Regions from separate parts of the Homo sapiens genome. Here region 2 is linked to region 1. The links come from fine-mapping of genetic effects on gene expression. Tissue or cell type: whole blood. Region 1 holds a variant in brackets; the other region holds the start of a gene. All regions are shown on one strand. Distances are between the middles of the regions.

The links. PIP is the estimated chance that this variant, and not a neighbour inherited with it, causes the effect.
Region 2: NQO2 starts here. The variant in region 1 is fine-mapped to the expression of NQO2 in whole blood (TOPMed, PIP above 0.99).

The regions. Positions count from the first base shown.
Region 1 is chr6:3,054,553-3,062,639 of GRCh38, reverse strand. LOC124901242 (a long non-coding RNA gene) reads right to left here and starts at 7,552. Exons shown (of 2, transcript XR_007059409.1): 1 at 6,616-7,552; 2 at 5,283-6,141. RefSeq lists an enhancer at 7,313-8,087. The variant A/C (reference allele first, on the strand shown) is at 4,878.
Region 2 is chr6:2,996,706-3,004,811 of GRCh38, reverse strand. NQO2 (N-ribosyldihydronicotinamide:quinone dehydrogenase 2) reads right to left here and starts at 4,918. Exons shown (of 7, transcript NM_000904.6): 1 at 4,727-4,918. It overlaps NQO2-AS1 (NQO2 antisense RNA 1), which reads left to right and starts at 5,137. Exons shown (of 2, transcript NR_186367.1): 1 at 5,137-5,421. RefSeq lists a silencer at 4,920-5,169.

The sequences.
Region 1 (8,087 bases):
CCATGAGCCGAGATTGCACCACTGCACTCCATCCTGAGCGACAGGCGAGACTCCGTCTCAAAAAATAAAAATAAAAATAAAAATAAATAAATAAATAAATAATATATAAATAAAATAACACCTTTAGTAAAATACAATTCACATACCATAATGTTCATCCTTTTAAAGCATGCAATTCAGTAGTTCTTAGTATATTGATGAAGCTGTGCAACTATCACCACTATCTAACTCCAGAAGATTTTCATCACCCTAAAAGGAACTGTGATACCCATTAGCAATTATTCTCCATTTCCTCCTTCCCACAATCCCTGGCAACCACAGATTTATTTTCTGTCTCTGGATTTTCCTATTTCGGGGATTTCATGCAAAATGAACCATACAATATGTGGTCTTTCGTGGCTGCTTCTTTTACTTAGCATAATGTTTTAAAGGTTCATTCATGATGGTTCAAGGTAGCATTTGTCAGGCTTCATTTCTTTTTATGGCTGAATAATATAATAATATGTATACATATATCTATTTTGTTTACCCTTTCAATTGACAGACATTTGGGTTTTTTCCATCTTTGGCTATTATGAATAATGCTGCTATCAACATTCATGTATAAATATATTTATGAATAATGCTGCTATCAACATTCATGTATAAATATATGTATAGAGGTATGTTTTCTTGAGCTTATCATGGATATATACCAGTGGGTAGAATTGGTGAGTCATATGGTATAACTCTATATTTAACTTTTTGAAGAACTGCCAAACTTGTTTTTGCAAAGCTACTGTGCAATTTTACATTCCTGCCAGCAATATACAGGCATACCTCAGAGATATTGTGGGGTAGGTTCCAAACCACCACAATAAAGCGAATACCACAATAATGCAAATCACGCAACGCTTTAGCAGCCCTATGCATATAATAGTTATATACTATACTGCAGTGTATTAAGTGCACGTTATGTCTCAAAAATGTAGATACCTTAATCATAACACATGTTATCACTAAAAAAAATGATGATAGTCATCTGAGCCTTCAGTGAGTCATAATCTTTTTGCTGGTGGAGTGGCCCGCCTCAATGTTAATGAACCTGACTGATCAAGGTGGTGGTTGCTGAAGGCTGGAGTGGCTGTGGCAATTTCTTTTTTTTTTTTTTGAGACAGAGTCTCGCTCTGTCGCCCAGGCCTGAGTGCAGTGGCGCTATCTCAGCTCACTGCAAGCTCCGCCTCCCGGATTCACGCCATTCTCCTGCCTCAGCCTCCCCAGTAGCTGGGACTACAGGCGCCCACCACTGCGCCCAGCTAATTTTTTGTATTTTTAGTAGAGATGGGGTTTCACCGTGTTAGCCAGGATGGTCTCGATCTCCTGACCTCGTGATCCACCCACCTCGGCCTCCCAAAGTGCTGGGATTACAGGCGTGAGCCACCGTGCCTGGCCGGCAATTTTTTAAAATCAGTTGGCTTCATCAATTGATTCTTCCTTTTATGAAAGATTTCTCTGTAGCATGTAACGCCATTTGATAGCATTTTATGCACAGTAGAACTTATTTCAAATTGGTGTCAATCTTCTCAAACCCTGCCACTGCTTTATCAACTTACTTTGTTATATCCTAAATCTTTTGGTTTTTGTTTGTTTGTTTTGAGACAGAGTCTCGTTCTGTCAGCCAGGCTGGAGTGCAGTGGCACAATCTCAGTTCACCGCAACCTCCGTCTCCCAGGCTCAAGCAATTCTCCTGCCTCAGCTTCCCGAGTAGCTGGGATTACAGGCATGTGCTACCACACCTGGCTAATTTTTGTATTTTTAGTAGAGACAGGGTTTCACCATGTTGGCCAGGCTGGTCTCGAACTCCTGACCTCAGGTTATCCACCGGCCTCGGCCTCCCAAAGTGCTGGGATTACAGGTGTGAGCCACCACACCCGGCCTGTTGTCATTTCAACAGTGGTTACAGCATCTTCCCCAGAGGCAGATTCCATCTCCAGAAACCACTTCCTTTGCTCATCCATAAGAAGTGACTCCTCATCTGTGAAAGTTTTATCATGAGGTTGCAGCAATTCTGTGACATCTTCAGGTTCCATTTCTAATTCTAGTTCTGTTCTATTTCCACCATATCTGCAGCTACTTCCTTCCCTAAAGTCTTCCATGAGCGTTGGAATTAATTTCTTCCAAACTCCTGTTAATGTTGACATTTTGACCTCCTTCCACGCATCACAAATGTTCTTAATGGCATCAAGAGTGGTGAGAACCTTTCTAGCAATTTATCAATTTATTTTGCCCAGATCCACCAGAGGAATCACTATATCTGGCAGCTAATAGCCTTTTAAAAATTATTTTGTGTTTATTATTATCATTATCATTATTATTATTATTATTATTATTATTATTATTATTATTATTTTGAGATGGAGTCACACTCTTGTCACCCAGGCAGGAGTGCAGTGGTGCGATCTCGGCTCACTGCAACGTCCGCCTCCCGGGTTCAAGCGATTCTCGTTACTCAGCCTCCCAAGTAGCTGGGATGACAGGCGCCCGCAACCACGCCCAGCTGATATTTGTATTTTTAGTAGAGACGGGGTTTCCCCATGTTGGCCAGGCTGGTCTCGAACTCCCTACCTTGGTTAATCCACCCGCCTTGGCCTCCCAAAGTGCTGGAATTACAGGCGTGAGCCACCACGCCCGGCCGGAAGTGTATTTTTTAAATAATAAGACTTGAAAGTTGAATTTACTCCTTGATCCATGGGCTGTAGAATGGACGTTGTGTTAGCAGGCATGAAAACAGCATTCATCTCCTTGTACGTCTCCGTCAGAGCTCTTGGGTAATCAGGTGCATTGTCAATGAGCAGTAATATTTTGAAAGGAATCTTTTTTTCTGAACAGTGAGTCTCAACAGTGGACTTAAAATACTCAGTAACCTATGCTGTAAAGAGACATGCTGTCACCCAGGCTTGGTGGTTCCACTGAGAGCACAGGCAGAGTAGGTTTAGCATAATTCTTAAAGCCCTAAGATTTTCAGTATGGTAAATGAGCATTGGTCTCAACTTAAAGTCACCAACTGCATTAGCCCCTAACAACAGAGTCAGCCTATCCTTTGAAGCTTTGAAGCCAGGCATTGACTTTTCCTCTCTAGCTATGGAAGTCCTAGGTGGCATCTTCTTCCAATAGAAGGCTGTTTTATCTACATTGAAAATCTGTTTAGTGTAGCCACCTTCATCAATGATCTTAGCTAGATCTTCTGGATAACTTGGTGCAGCTTCTCCATCAGCACTTCCTGCTTCACATTGCACTTTTATGTTACAGAGATGCCTTCTTCCCTTAAACCTCATGAACCAAGAACCAACCTCTGCTAGCTTCCAACTTTTCTTCTGCAATTTCCTCACTTCTCTCATCCTGCATAGGATTGAAGAGAGTTGGGGCCTTGCTCTGGATTCGGCTTTGGCTGAAGGGAGTTCTGTGGCTGGTTTGATCTATACAGACCACTTAAATTTTCCCCATGTCAGCAATAAGGCTGTTTTACTTATCATTCATGTGTTCACTAAAGCAGCACTTTTAATTTCCTTCAATAACTTTTTCTTTCATTCACAACTTGGCAGCTTGTTTGGTGCAAGAGGTCTTGCTTATGGCTTATCTTGGCTTTTGACATGTCTTCCTAACTTTAATCGTCTTTCACTTTTGATTTAAAGTGACAGGCATGCAACTCTTCCTTTTATTTGAAGATTTAAAGGTCATTATAGGGTTGGTTCTTCACTACCCTAATTTAAATATTGTTGTGTTGTCTCAAAGAATTTGGGAGAGGGAGAGAGATGGGAAATGACTGCTCACTGGAGCAGTCAGAACACACACAACATTTATCCATTAAGTTTGTCAACGTATATGGGTTTAGTTTGTGGCACCCCAAAACAATTATAGTAGTAACATCCCGGATCACTGTAACAGATGTAATAATAATGACAATGTCTGAAATATTGTGAGAATTACCAAAACGTAACACAGAGACAAGAAATGAGCACATGCTGTTGGAAAAATGGTCCCAAAATCCTGCTTGACACAGTTGCCACAGACCTTCAATATGTGAAAAACACAATATCTTTGAATTGCGCTAAAGCAAAATGCAATGAAATGAGGGATGTCTGTATAAGACAAAGAGAAAATCATAAAAGCAGCAAGACATGTACAAGGGATCCTCAATAAACTCATATGTCTATGGCCAAGGGTGCCAAGCAGTATTCAATTCAGGGAAGAATAGTCTTCAACAGATGATATGGAAGGACTGTATTTCCACATGCAAGAGTAAAGTTAGACCCTGCTTCACACCGTATTAAAAAAACCCTCACAAGCAATGAACTAAATATAAAAACTAAAATCATAAAATTCTTAGGAGAAAACATAGAAGCAAATCTTCATAATTTTGGGTTTGGTAATAGGCTCTTAGATATGATAGCAAAATCTCTTGCAAAACAACAATGAAAAAACAAAAAGAAACAAAATCCACTGGGAGTAATCTTCATTAAAATCTGAAATTTTGTGTATCAAAGGATATTATCAAGAAAGACAACCTACAGAGTGAAGGAACATTTTTGCAAATCATATAGCTGATAAATTCAGAATATAAAGAACTTCTACAACTCAACAATGAATAGGCAAACAATCCAATTAAAGTATAAGCAAAGGACTTGGATAGACATTTCTCCAAGGAAGGTATACAAATGGCCAGTAAATGCATGAAAAGACGATTCAAGTCATTAGTCATTAGGGAAATGCAAATCAAAAACCCAATGAAATACCACATCACATCTGCTAGGATGGCTATAATTTAGGGGAAAAAAAGCAACATAATAAATGCTGGTGAAAATATGGAGAAATTGGAACCCTCATACATTGTTGGTGGG[A/C]ATGTAAAATTGCACAGACACTGCGAAATACATTTTGGCTATTCCTCAAAAAGCTAAACATAGGATGACGATAGAATTGTTATAACAATTCCATTCCTCGGTAGATACCCACAGTATTAAGCGCAGGGAGTCACACAGATACATATATGCCAAGAATCATTGGTGCATTATTCACAAATCTCAAACGACCCGTGCATTTTTAATATTCGGCCACAAAGAAGTGAAATTCTGACTCATATTACAACATTGATGAAACTTGCCAACAAGGTTTTCAAGGGAAATAAGCTGACTGTAAAGGCCCATTTTGTAGGATTCCACTTATACGAAGTACATGGGACAGACAAATCATAGAGACAGAAAGTAGATTAGAGGCTACCGGTAATGAAAGGAGGGGGGAATGGGAAGTTATTTTACAATGAGTACCGTGTTTTTATTTGTTCTGTTGAAAAATGTTTTGGAAATAAATAGCAGGAAAGGTTGCACAACATAGTCGATGTAATTAATGCTTCTGAACTGTCCACTTAAAAATGGATAAAACAGCATATCTTATGTTGTACATATTTGACTACACAAAAACAAAGTTTAAAAGTACAAAAAACTCTGTTATTAAGAGTCAGTTTCCCAAAGGGATGGAGATGCTGGTAACAGAAGGGAAAGAAATCTCATCAAATAAAAAAAAGCAATGTCCTCTTCAGGAGGTGGCTCAGCTAGTTTAGCTTTACCTTAGCACCATGATGGTTCATTTTATTCAGAAATAGAAACATGGGGCGTTGGGGAGAAGAGGAGATGTGTACCTGCCTCACCTGCCTCCCTGCCCAGAATGCCGACTCCGACTCTTGCTTTCCACTAAGGCTGGGGATTAAATGAAAATTGAGAATCTGGAAACCCCCAGAGATGATGTTTGTCGTTGGAGCTGATTTTATCTCGTCTTAGTAGCGTGACCTCCTCTTCAAACTCAGGATGCAATTATGGTCAATCTCATCAGTGTGCAGTAATTGCTCAGCCCCAATACCAGATTAGCAGGAAGTTCTGTTATTTTCCTTTTGAGGACGGGCTCCTACTGAACTGTCCTAGAATCTACCACCATTCAACTCACACCACTCAAAAGACCCAGGGAACGGCCAGGCGCGGTGGCTCCCGCCTGTAATCCCAGCACTTTGGGAGGCCGAGGCGGGCGGCTTCGAGGATCAGGAGGATCACGAGGCGGATCACGAGGTCAGGAGATCGAGACCATCCTGGCTAACACGGTGAAACTCCGTCTCTACTAAAAAAAAAAAAAAAAAATTTAGCCCGGCGTGGTGGCGGGCGCCTGTAGTCCCAGCTACTCGGGAGGCTGAGGCAGGAGAATGGCGTGAACCCGGGAGGCGGAGCTTGCAGTGAGCCGAGATCGCGCCACTGCACTCCAGCCTGGGCCAGAGCGAGACTCTGTCTCAAAAACAAAAACAAAAACAAAAACAACAAAAAAAGACCCAGGGAACTAGGCCAGTCCAGCTCCCAACCCCAAGCAGGGAGCAACTTGCTCAGTCCACGTTGTGATAGCTCCTCGCTGCCACAAGGTGGTGATGTTGCATCACACACGCGCATGATGGGCGCGCAGGCGCCAATGCTCCCAGGACCTGCTGTTCCATTCCTAAATGAAAGTTGTTCCCAGGATCTGGACTCACAAGACAAGGCAGCCTGTTCCCTGCTGGGGAGCTCAGGGGCAAGAGGGCATCTCGGAGGGAGGGCACATTCTCACCTCTGAAGACAAGGAGAACATCATCAGCACATAGACCAATCCCAGCAGTGCACCTTAGGATGGGGGCCACTGTGAGTTACAGCAAAATGAACGAATGAATGAACCAATAAATGTCTGAGAGGGAAAGTCCCAACGACCCTCAGGAGGTGCAATCAAGAGTTGCAGTTATTTTCGTTAGGAACGTTCTAAACCACAGGGGAAACCTTCCTTCCTTCTGCTCTATCGTTGGAGTGGGACATCAGTGTTTCTGGTCTCTATTTCCGGGACACCAGAAATCAAGGTATAGAGTTTGGAGAGGGGTCTTGGGGAGGTCACAGTGGCAGGTGACTGCCAAATGAGGGGGCAGAAGCCAGCAAACACTAGAAAAAAAGACAATCGGCCTAAACTGTTCACCAGCACCGCCCTCCCAACCCCCAACTGGCTCTGTTTCCAAGACTTTCCATTTTCTAGCCATTTCCTTGTCCTTAAACCACTTTCCTTTAATCGAACTTTTTCTTTGGAGCCATGCACCCAAGGACTATGGCCTGTCCTTGGGAATTATAGGGAATTCCTGTTGTATGTGAAATTTTCCACCGATTTAAGAATCTTTGGAAAGCTTTACTACAATATCCTGGTCCATTGTCAGTTTTGATTTTTTCTGGAACTCCCATGACAGCAAAACAAGACAATAAACGTTTTTTAACATGGGAAGTACTTTCTCCTGTCTGGCAAGCTGCCCATATGAAATGTGAATAAGTATCAACTGTTACATGAACATATGACAATCTTCCAAATGAAGGGACATGCGTGACATCCATTTGCCATAATGCATTAGGACACAGACCTCTGGGATTAACTCCTGCCTCTTGAGTGGGCAGGTGTAAGACTTAACACTGGGGAGAAACCTTGGACAATACCTGGCTTTCCTAGGCAGAGGACCCTGCGGCCTTCCACAGTGTTTGCGTCCCTGGGTACTTGAGATGAGGGAGTGGTGATGACTCTTAAGGAGCATGCTGCCTTCAAGCATTTGTTTAACAAAGCACATCTTGCACCGCCCTTAATCCATTTAACCCTGAGTTTGACACGCACATGTTTCAGAGAGCACGGGGTTGGGGGTAACGTCATAGATTAACAGAATCTCAAGGCAGAAGAATTTTTCTTAGTACAGCACAAAATGGAGTCTCCTATGTCTACTTCTTTCTACACAGACACAGTAACAATCTGATCTATCTTGCTTTTCCCCCCACCGCCCTCCCAACCCCCAACTGGCTCTGTTTCCAAGACTTTCCATTTTCTAGCCATTTCCTTGTCCTTAAACCACTTTCCTTTAATCGAACTTTTTCCTTGGAGCCATGCATATCCGGTTTCCCCCAATGGTGGCATCTCACAAAGGACGGTCCAGTATCCCAACGGCGTGTTGCGTTCTGCGGGACGCAGATTTCCTTCACAGGCACCCCCCGGGTTGCGTTTTTATAGCCACACACCCGCCGCCT
Region 2 (8,106 bases), 58 kb after region 1:
AAAAAATGGGATAAAAAAACAATGCAGAGAGTGTGACTAGGGCTTAGTGTGAAGACACGCATCGCGCATGTTGTGTCCAAACGACAACGTGAACCTATCAGTGTGTCTTTACAGCAAAACAAAAAGCACAGAGACACACAAAAGTGGTGCTTATCCCCACCAGGACTGGAATCTTGAGCAGGGCCTGAATGAGCATCTTCCAGGGCCCACTCCTTATCTCCAGCTGTCCAGGAGCACAGGCACAGGGCTGGGGTCTGCAGAATACTGCAAGAAGTGAGGTGGGTGCTGAGGAGTGGGCTCCACCCAGGCCAGGTGCCCTGTGGATGGAAAGGAAAAGAGGCTACATCATTGTGGCTGAAGCTGAGTTGGGGGCAGGCATGGGACTTAACAGAGTGGGGCACTGTCACTCCCCAAGAGGGCAGACAGCTCTGATCACTCCAAACACCCAAAGGTGACTTCAAATCCTTCCCCATTCGCTTGACTTCACTGGACAGCTGGGAACCTGCATCTTTAGTGACTGAATATCCCCACTCTGGTTCCCCAAGGACAGACCCTGAATTGATTCCAGGAATCCACGTGTACAGGTAAGCACTACATTTCCTAGGCTGCCTTGCAGTTGAGATGGCCAGTGAGGTGTCAGCAGAAGTCACAGGCGGGGCTTCCAAGAAATACCCTCAAGAAGCGAACTCAGCTGGGGCTGGGAGGTGTGGGAGCTAGCTCCCTCTGGCTTTGTCGCTGGCTCTCTTCCCAGCTGGACTGTGGGATGATGTTAGGGCTCAGTCAGCCTTCTTGTCGTCCTGGGGATGGAGGCTATGCACCAAGGGCAGGGAGCAGAAATACCAAAGGAACCTGGATTCCCGGGGCTCTCTTGGGGCTGCAAGATGGTGGTGGATTGGCAACTGCAGATATTTGTGTTTATGTATTTTCCATGCAGAAACATCTACAATGGCACTGAGTCTGTAGCGAGGGCCATGCACTGTCTGTCTGAAAGTGCTCCAGGCACAGGCTTTGTGTCCAAGTACCTTGCTGTGTTTAAGGTACATCACAGCACCGGAGAATGTGGGAGAGGTCACATTCATCCCTTCAAAGCGCAGGGAGGTTCCTATTCTGACACCAGCAACACTTACAAGAATGAACCTAAAGCTGGGCAGTGAGGAAGGAAAGGAAAAAGAAAGTTTATGAATACAGGTAGTATTGTTTGAACCGGTAAGTTGCACTATAAATCACAATAAAAGATAGTCTGTATATCACTAAAACAGAAGAGTTGGCCGCCCTGAGGATGAGGCCTTTGGGTCTCCAGGCATTTGCCAGCTCTCCTAGCCTAGGGGCAGGGGCGCCTGCACAGCCCTCTGCTTTTCCTAGAATTCTCAGCAGCGAGCATGTGTCAGGGAGAGACATGGTTGTCTTAGCACTGAGGCTGAAATCCTGGATGTTCTTGGGAGGGCAGTGATTGTGAAGAACAAGTTACTTGTCTAGTTCCTGGGGGTCACTCCTCAAAGCCTCCCGATGAGGCAAGTTTACAGGATCCATGCTCCCTGAGCCAGCAGTGACACCCACACTTGGCAGTGAGAAGTGGGGCTGTAACTTACAGGGTGAGCCAAAATGGCGGGTCTGGAAAGGGATTATCTTAAAGGAAAAAGAGAGGAGAGTGAGTGACTTCATCATTAGCTGGGAGGCTCTACAGTGCCCTGGTGGACAGTCACTGCCTGGAGGTGACTTTGTAGAAAGCAAACTTTGGCTATCACAATGCATAGGGAGGCCTGGCAAAGCCCAGGGAAGCAGAAGGCCCAGCACTTTGAGAGGCTGAGGCAGGAGATCACTTGAGCCTAGGAATTTGAGACCAGCCCGGGCAACATAGTGAGATCCCATCTCTACCAAAGATTTTTAAAAATTAGCCAGGTGTGGTGGTGCATGCCTGTAATCCCAGCTACTCAGGGGGCTGAGATTAGAGGATTGCTCCACTCCAGACTGGGTGACAGAGTTAGGCTCTGTTTCAAGAAAAAAGAGAAAGTAAAAGAAAAAAAAGAAAGCCTGTTTGGCTGAACTGTGGTTCAAAAAAAAAAAGAGTGGATGGTGGTAGATGCAGTCAGGGAGGTGGGAGGGGTCTGACCTGACCCCTCCTAGGGTAGGGGTGAGGATTTTATTCTAAGCCTGACAGAAAGCCCTTGGAGCCTCTTAAGCTGGAGAGTAATATGGAATGATCGCCAGTTGTGGTGGCTCACACCTGTAATCCCAGCATTTTGGGGGGCCGAGGTGGGGGGATCACCTGAGGTCAGGAGTTTGAAACCAGCCTGGTCAATGTGGCAAAACACCATCTCTACTAAAAAATACAAAAATTATCCGGGTATGGTGGCATGTGCCTGTAGTCCCAGCTACTTGGGAGGCTGAGGCAGGAGAATCACTTGAACCTGGGAGGTGGAGGTTGCAGTGAGTCAAGATTGTGCCATTGCACTCCAGCCTGGGCAACAGAGCAAGACTCTGTCTCAAAAAAGAAAAAGAAAATAGAGTGATATGAAATGATTTACCTTTGTAAATGTTGCCAGTGTTTCTGCAGACTGGGGGAACACCTTATCCTGATTCCCAAAGTGATTGCCCGAAATCATGTTGTTTGTATGAAATGCTTCATTTTCACTCCTCTAGACAGGGCATCCATTCTTCAGTGTCCCCAGCTCACCACTCCCTTTTGTATTCCTTGGCCCAGTTTACATGTTTACATCATATGGCTGGTGGCATGTGAGTTTGTGACTTCTGTCTCCATCCCCCTAGCGGTTAAGAATAAGAATCTGAGGTCCAAGAGCTGAGTGACTAACTCAGCTCTATTTGAGTGACTCAGCTCTATTTTCTATACTATTTGAAATAGTGGGGAAAGACTCCAACACAGGCTCTTGACTTGCAGTTGTGTCACTGTTCACTTGACCCCAGGCACTTCCCTTGGCACCCCATCCACAGCAGTGACAGTTCTCTCCCTTTTTAGAAACTATGCACCTACCCAGGCCTACAGGAAAAAAGAGCCATGTGGTTATTAAACTGTATATACCAGGTCAAGTGGGCTCTGATATTTTTGACGTGTACATTATTTAATTTTAAGAAGTTATTTTATAATGTTTTCACTTTTTTTCCTGTGCCTCTTTCCATGTGGACAGTCCCCGTGCTGGGCATTCTAACAGACAACATCTCACAGTGTATTCAGTGTGTATTCATGCGGCAGCTAAACCATTGCCTGCATACCCTTTTGTGCCCATTTTCCTATTTCTGGGACCTTAGGTTATTTCCATTTTTTTCCCAAAACTATAAACAGCACAGCTAGAAGTATATATTATTTAATACTTGTTCCTTTTCATGTATTTCTTTGGCTGTGATCTTCGGAGATTAAAGGTTAAACTGATTTATTTTTTCAGAGATTAAAGGTTAAAGAAGCTGATTTTTGGCCGGGCGCAGTGGTTCATTAATCCCAGCACTCTGGGAGGCCGAGGCAGGCGGATCACCTGAGGTCAGGAGTTTGAGACCAGCCTGACTAATATGGTGAAACTCCATTTCTACTAAAAATACCAAAAATTAGCTGGGTGTAGTGGCACGCACCTGTAATCCCAGCTACTCGGGAGACTGAGGCAGGAGAATAGCTTGAACCCGGGAGGCAGAGGTTGCAGTGAGCTGAGATTGTGCCATTGCACTCCAGCTTGGGCAATAAGAGTGAAACTCCATCTCAAAAAAAAAAAAAAAAGAAAAAGAAAGGAAGAAGAATGAGTTCAAGACCAGCCTGGCCAATATGGTGAAACTCCCACCTGTACTAAAAATACAAAAATTAGCCGGGCATGGTGGCAGGCGCCTGTAATCCCAGCTACTCAAGGGGCTGAGGGGGGAGAATCGCTTGAACCTGGAAGGCAGAGGTTGCAGTGAGCTGAGATTGCCCCACTGCACTCCAGCCTGGGCAACAGAGTGAGACTCTTCTAAAAAAAAAAGAAAAAAGAAAAAGAGGGCCGGGAGCAGTGGCTCACGCCTGCAATCCCAGCACTTTGGGAGGCCCAGGCGGGCGGATCACGAGGTCAGGAGTTTGAGACCAGCCTGACCAACATGAAACCCGTCTCTACTAAACATACAAAAAATTAGCCAGGCGTGGTGGCACGCCCCTATAATCCCAGGTACTCGGGAGGCTGAGGCAGGAGAATTGCTTGAACCCGGGAGGCGGAGGTTGCAGTGAGCCGAAATCGTGCCACTGCACTCCAGCCTGGGCGACAGAGTGAGACTCCGTCTCGGGGAAAAAAAAAAAAGCTGATTTTTTTTTTTCCCAGAGAGATTATAGGTTAGAGAAGCTGATTTTTCATTTTTTCCACAGTGCCACAATGTCCTTGACAAAGGCAGCGCAAACCAGTGGTTCAGCCGCGCCTTCAGGGCAGCGCTGGGCAGCGCACGGGCCTAAACCCCGGTACCCCCTTTACAGACTGACCTTGGGCCCGCTGATTCCTACTTGTAATATGACTATGATACCAGCACCCGCTCCATAGGGTTGAGGGCAGATTCCACCAGACGATTCGACACCGGGACCCTGCGTGTGGGCGCGTTCCGTGAGAGCCAAGCACGATCCTATGTACAGAATGGTCCCTGGCCCGGGCGCGACGACCCACAGGGCCATATGGCCGGCCAGCTGAAATCCCTGAGAGCGTTCTGGCCGTCCAGTCCGGGAACTGTCCTTCCCAAGTCCCCCGGTCCCCGACAGGGGATCACTCACCTTCCGACCAGCGCACTCCCCAGTAGGAGCCGCAGGACTGGGACCCGCGTCTCCCCAAGGACCGCTCTAGGAGTTGCGCCAGGTTCCGGCCGCACTGGACCGCGCACTCGCTGACGCCTGGAGGGCGGGAGCGCTGCGACTGCGCCCCCGGGGACCACGGACCGGTGCCAACCTAAGCAGCCCGGAACCTGCCCCGCGCCGCGGGACTGCAGGCCTCTTTACGCAGCGCGCCTACCACGCCGAGGCCCCGCCCACTCACCCGCCCCGCCCGTGAGCCCCGCCCACACCCCGCCCCGCCCCCGAGCCCCGCCCACTCCCCGCCCCGGCGGTGCGGTGCCTCGCTCCGCGCCCGTCCGCGCCCAGGCCCCGCCTCCACAGCGGCGTCCCGCCCCACCCACACCTCGCCTCGGCCCCTAAGCTCCGCCCACTCCCCGCCCCTGAGGTCCATCTGGGGCCTCGCCCGGCGATCTGGGACTGGGGAGGACCCTGCTGACTTCCAGGCAGGTGGAAACTGGATTGATAGAAATCCAGCGCGGGGAGGCTGTGCTGAGAGGAGGGACGCCCCTGCCCTGCGCCTCCCGCTCCCCATCTCTGGCTGGTATCCCGGTTACAGAATGAGGGTCCGTGGTGCAACAGAAAGAATGAGCCACTGATACACTCATCAGCTTGCTCGGATCTCCCGGGGAGTTACGCTGGTGAGAGAAACCAGTCCCAAAGGTCACTCACCGACGGCGCCGCTGGTGTACTGGTATTATGCAAGATGCCCTCGCAAAGGTCACGCACGGATGGTTCATTTATCCAAAGACCAAAGGAGAGAAATGCAGGACTCATTAGCAGTGCCCAGGAGATAGGGGGGCGGGTGGGTGTGGCTATAAAAACGCAACCCGGGGGGTGCCTGTGAAGGAAATCTGCGTCCCGCGGAACGCAACACGCTGTTGGGATACTGGATTGTCCTTTGTGAGATGCCACTATCGGGGGAAACCGGATGGCTTCACAGAAAAAGTTCGTTTAAAGGAAAATGGTTTAAGGCCAAGGAAATACCTAGAAAACGGAAAGTCTTGAAACCAGAGCCGGTGGGGAGTTATGGGGGGCGGTGCTGGTGAACAGTTTGGGCCGACTTTTTCCAGCGCTTGCTGGCTTCTGCCACCTCATTTGGCAGTCACCTGCCACTGTGACCTCCCCAAGTCCCTTCTCCAAACTCAATTCCTTGATTTCTGGTGTCCCGGGATGGCCCCACTCCAACAATAGAGCAGAAGGAAGGAAGGTTTCCCCTGTGTTTAGAACGTTCCTAACGAAAATAACTGCAACTCTTGATTGTACCTCCTGAGGGTCGTTGGGACTTTCCCTCTCAGACATTTATTGGTTCATTCATTCGTTCATTTTGCTGTAACTCACAGTGGCCCTCCCCATCCTAAGGTGCACTGCTGGGATTGGTCTATGTGCTGATGATGTTCTCCTTGTCTTCAGAGGTGAGAATGTGCCCTCCCTCCGAGATGCCCTCTTGCCCCTGAGCTCCCCAGCAGGGAATAGGCTGCCTTGTCTTGTGAGTCCAGATCCTGGGAACAACTTTCATTTAGGAATGGAACAGCAGGTCCTGGGAGCATTGGCGCCTGCGCGCCCATCATGCGCGTGTGTGATGCAACATCACCACCTTGTGGCAGCGAGGAGCTATCACAACGTGGACTGAGCAAGTTGCTCCCTGCTTGGGGTTGGGAGCTGGACTGGCCTAGTTCCCTGGGTCTTTTGTAACCTGAATGGTGGTAGATTCCAGGACAGTTCAGTAGGAGCCCATCCTCAAAAGGAAAATAACAGAACTTCCTGCTAATCTGGTATTGGGGCTGAGCAATTACTGCACACTAATGAGATTGACCATAATTGCATCCTGAGTTTGAGGAGGAGGTCATGCTACTAAAATGAGATAAAATCAGCTCCAACGACAAACATCATCTCTGGGGGTTTCCAGATTCTCACTTTTCATTTAATCCCCAGCCTTAGTGGAAAGCAAGAGTCGGAGTCGGCATTCTGGGCAGGGAGGCAGGTGAGGCAGGTACACATCTCCTCTTCTCCCCAACGCCCCATGTTTCTATTTCTGAATAAAATGAACCATCATGGTGCTAAGGTAAAGCTAAACTAGCTGAGCCACCTCCTGAAGAGGTCATTGCTTTTGTTTTTATTTAATGAGATTTCTTTCCCTTCTGCTACCAGCATCCCTATTCCTTTGGAAAACTGCTTCTTCATAATAACATAAAGGTTTTGGATTTTTTGTTTTGTTTTTTGGGTAGCAAAATCTGTATAACATGAAATTTTCTATTTTCACCATTTTAAGTGTACAATTCAGTGGCATAAATTACCTTTAGAGTGCTGTGCAACCATTACAACTATTTATTTTCAAAACGTTTTCATCATCCCAAATAGAAACACTTGGGTCAGGGGCCATAGATCACGCCTGTAATCCCAGCACTTTGGGAGGCAGAGGCATGCAGATCACCTGAGGTCAAAAGTTTGAGACCAGCCTGGCCAACATGGCGAAACCCCATCTCTACAAAAATTTGCCAGGTGGTGTACACCTGTAATCCCAGCTACTCAGAGGCTGAGGCAGGAGAATTGCTTGAACCCAGGAGGCGGAGGCTGCAGTGAGCTGAGATCGTGGCACTGCACTCCAGCCTGGATGACAGAGCGAGACCCTGTCTCAAACAAAAACAAAAACAAATAGAAACACTGCACTCATTGGATAATAAATCCCCATTCTCCCCTCCTTCCACTCCTGGTAGCCTCTAATCTACTTTCTGTCTCCATGAATTTGTCTATTGCATGTATTTCATATAAGTGGAATCCTACAAGATGTGGCCTTTTCACTAAGCTTTTTTTCCTCAAAAACCTTGTTGCTGAGTTTCATCCATGTTGTAGTATGCATCAGAACTTCATTCCTTTTTATGGCCGAATAATAGAAAAATGTGTATACCGCCTGGCCAACGTGGGGAAACCCCATCTCTACTAAAAACACAAAAATTAGCTGGGCATGGTGGTGTGCACCTGTAGTCCCAGCTACTCGGGAGGCTGAGGCAGGAGAATCACTTGAACCCAGGAGGCAGAGGTGGCGGTGAGCTGAGATTGTGTCATTGCACTCAAGCCTGGGCAACAAGAGCAAGACTGACAGAAAGAAAAGAAAGAAGAAAGAGAGAAAGAAAAAGAAAGGAAGGAAGGAAGGAAGGAAGGAAGGAAGGAAGGAAGGAAGGAAGGAAGGAAGGAAGGAAGGGTACCAGGCATTGTTTATCCACTCATCTGTTGTTTGACTATTGTGAATAATATTGCAATGATTATTGGTGTACAAGTATCTGTTTCAGTCCCTGTGTTCAATAATTTTGGTTATACACCTTGGA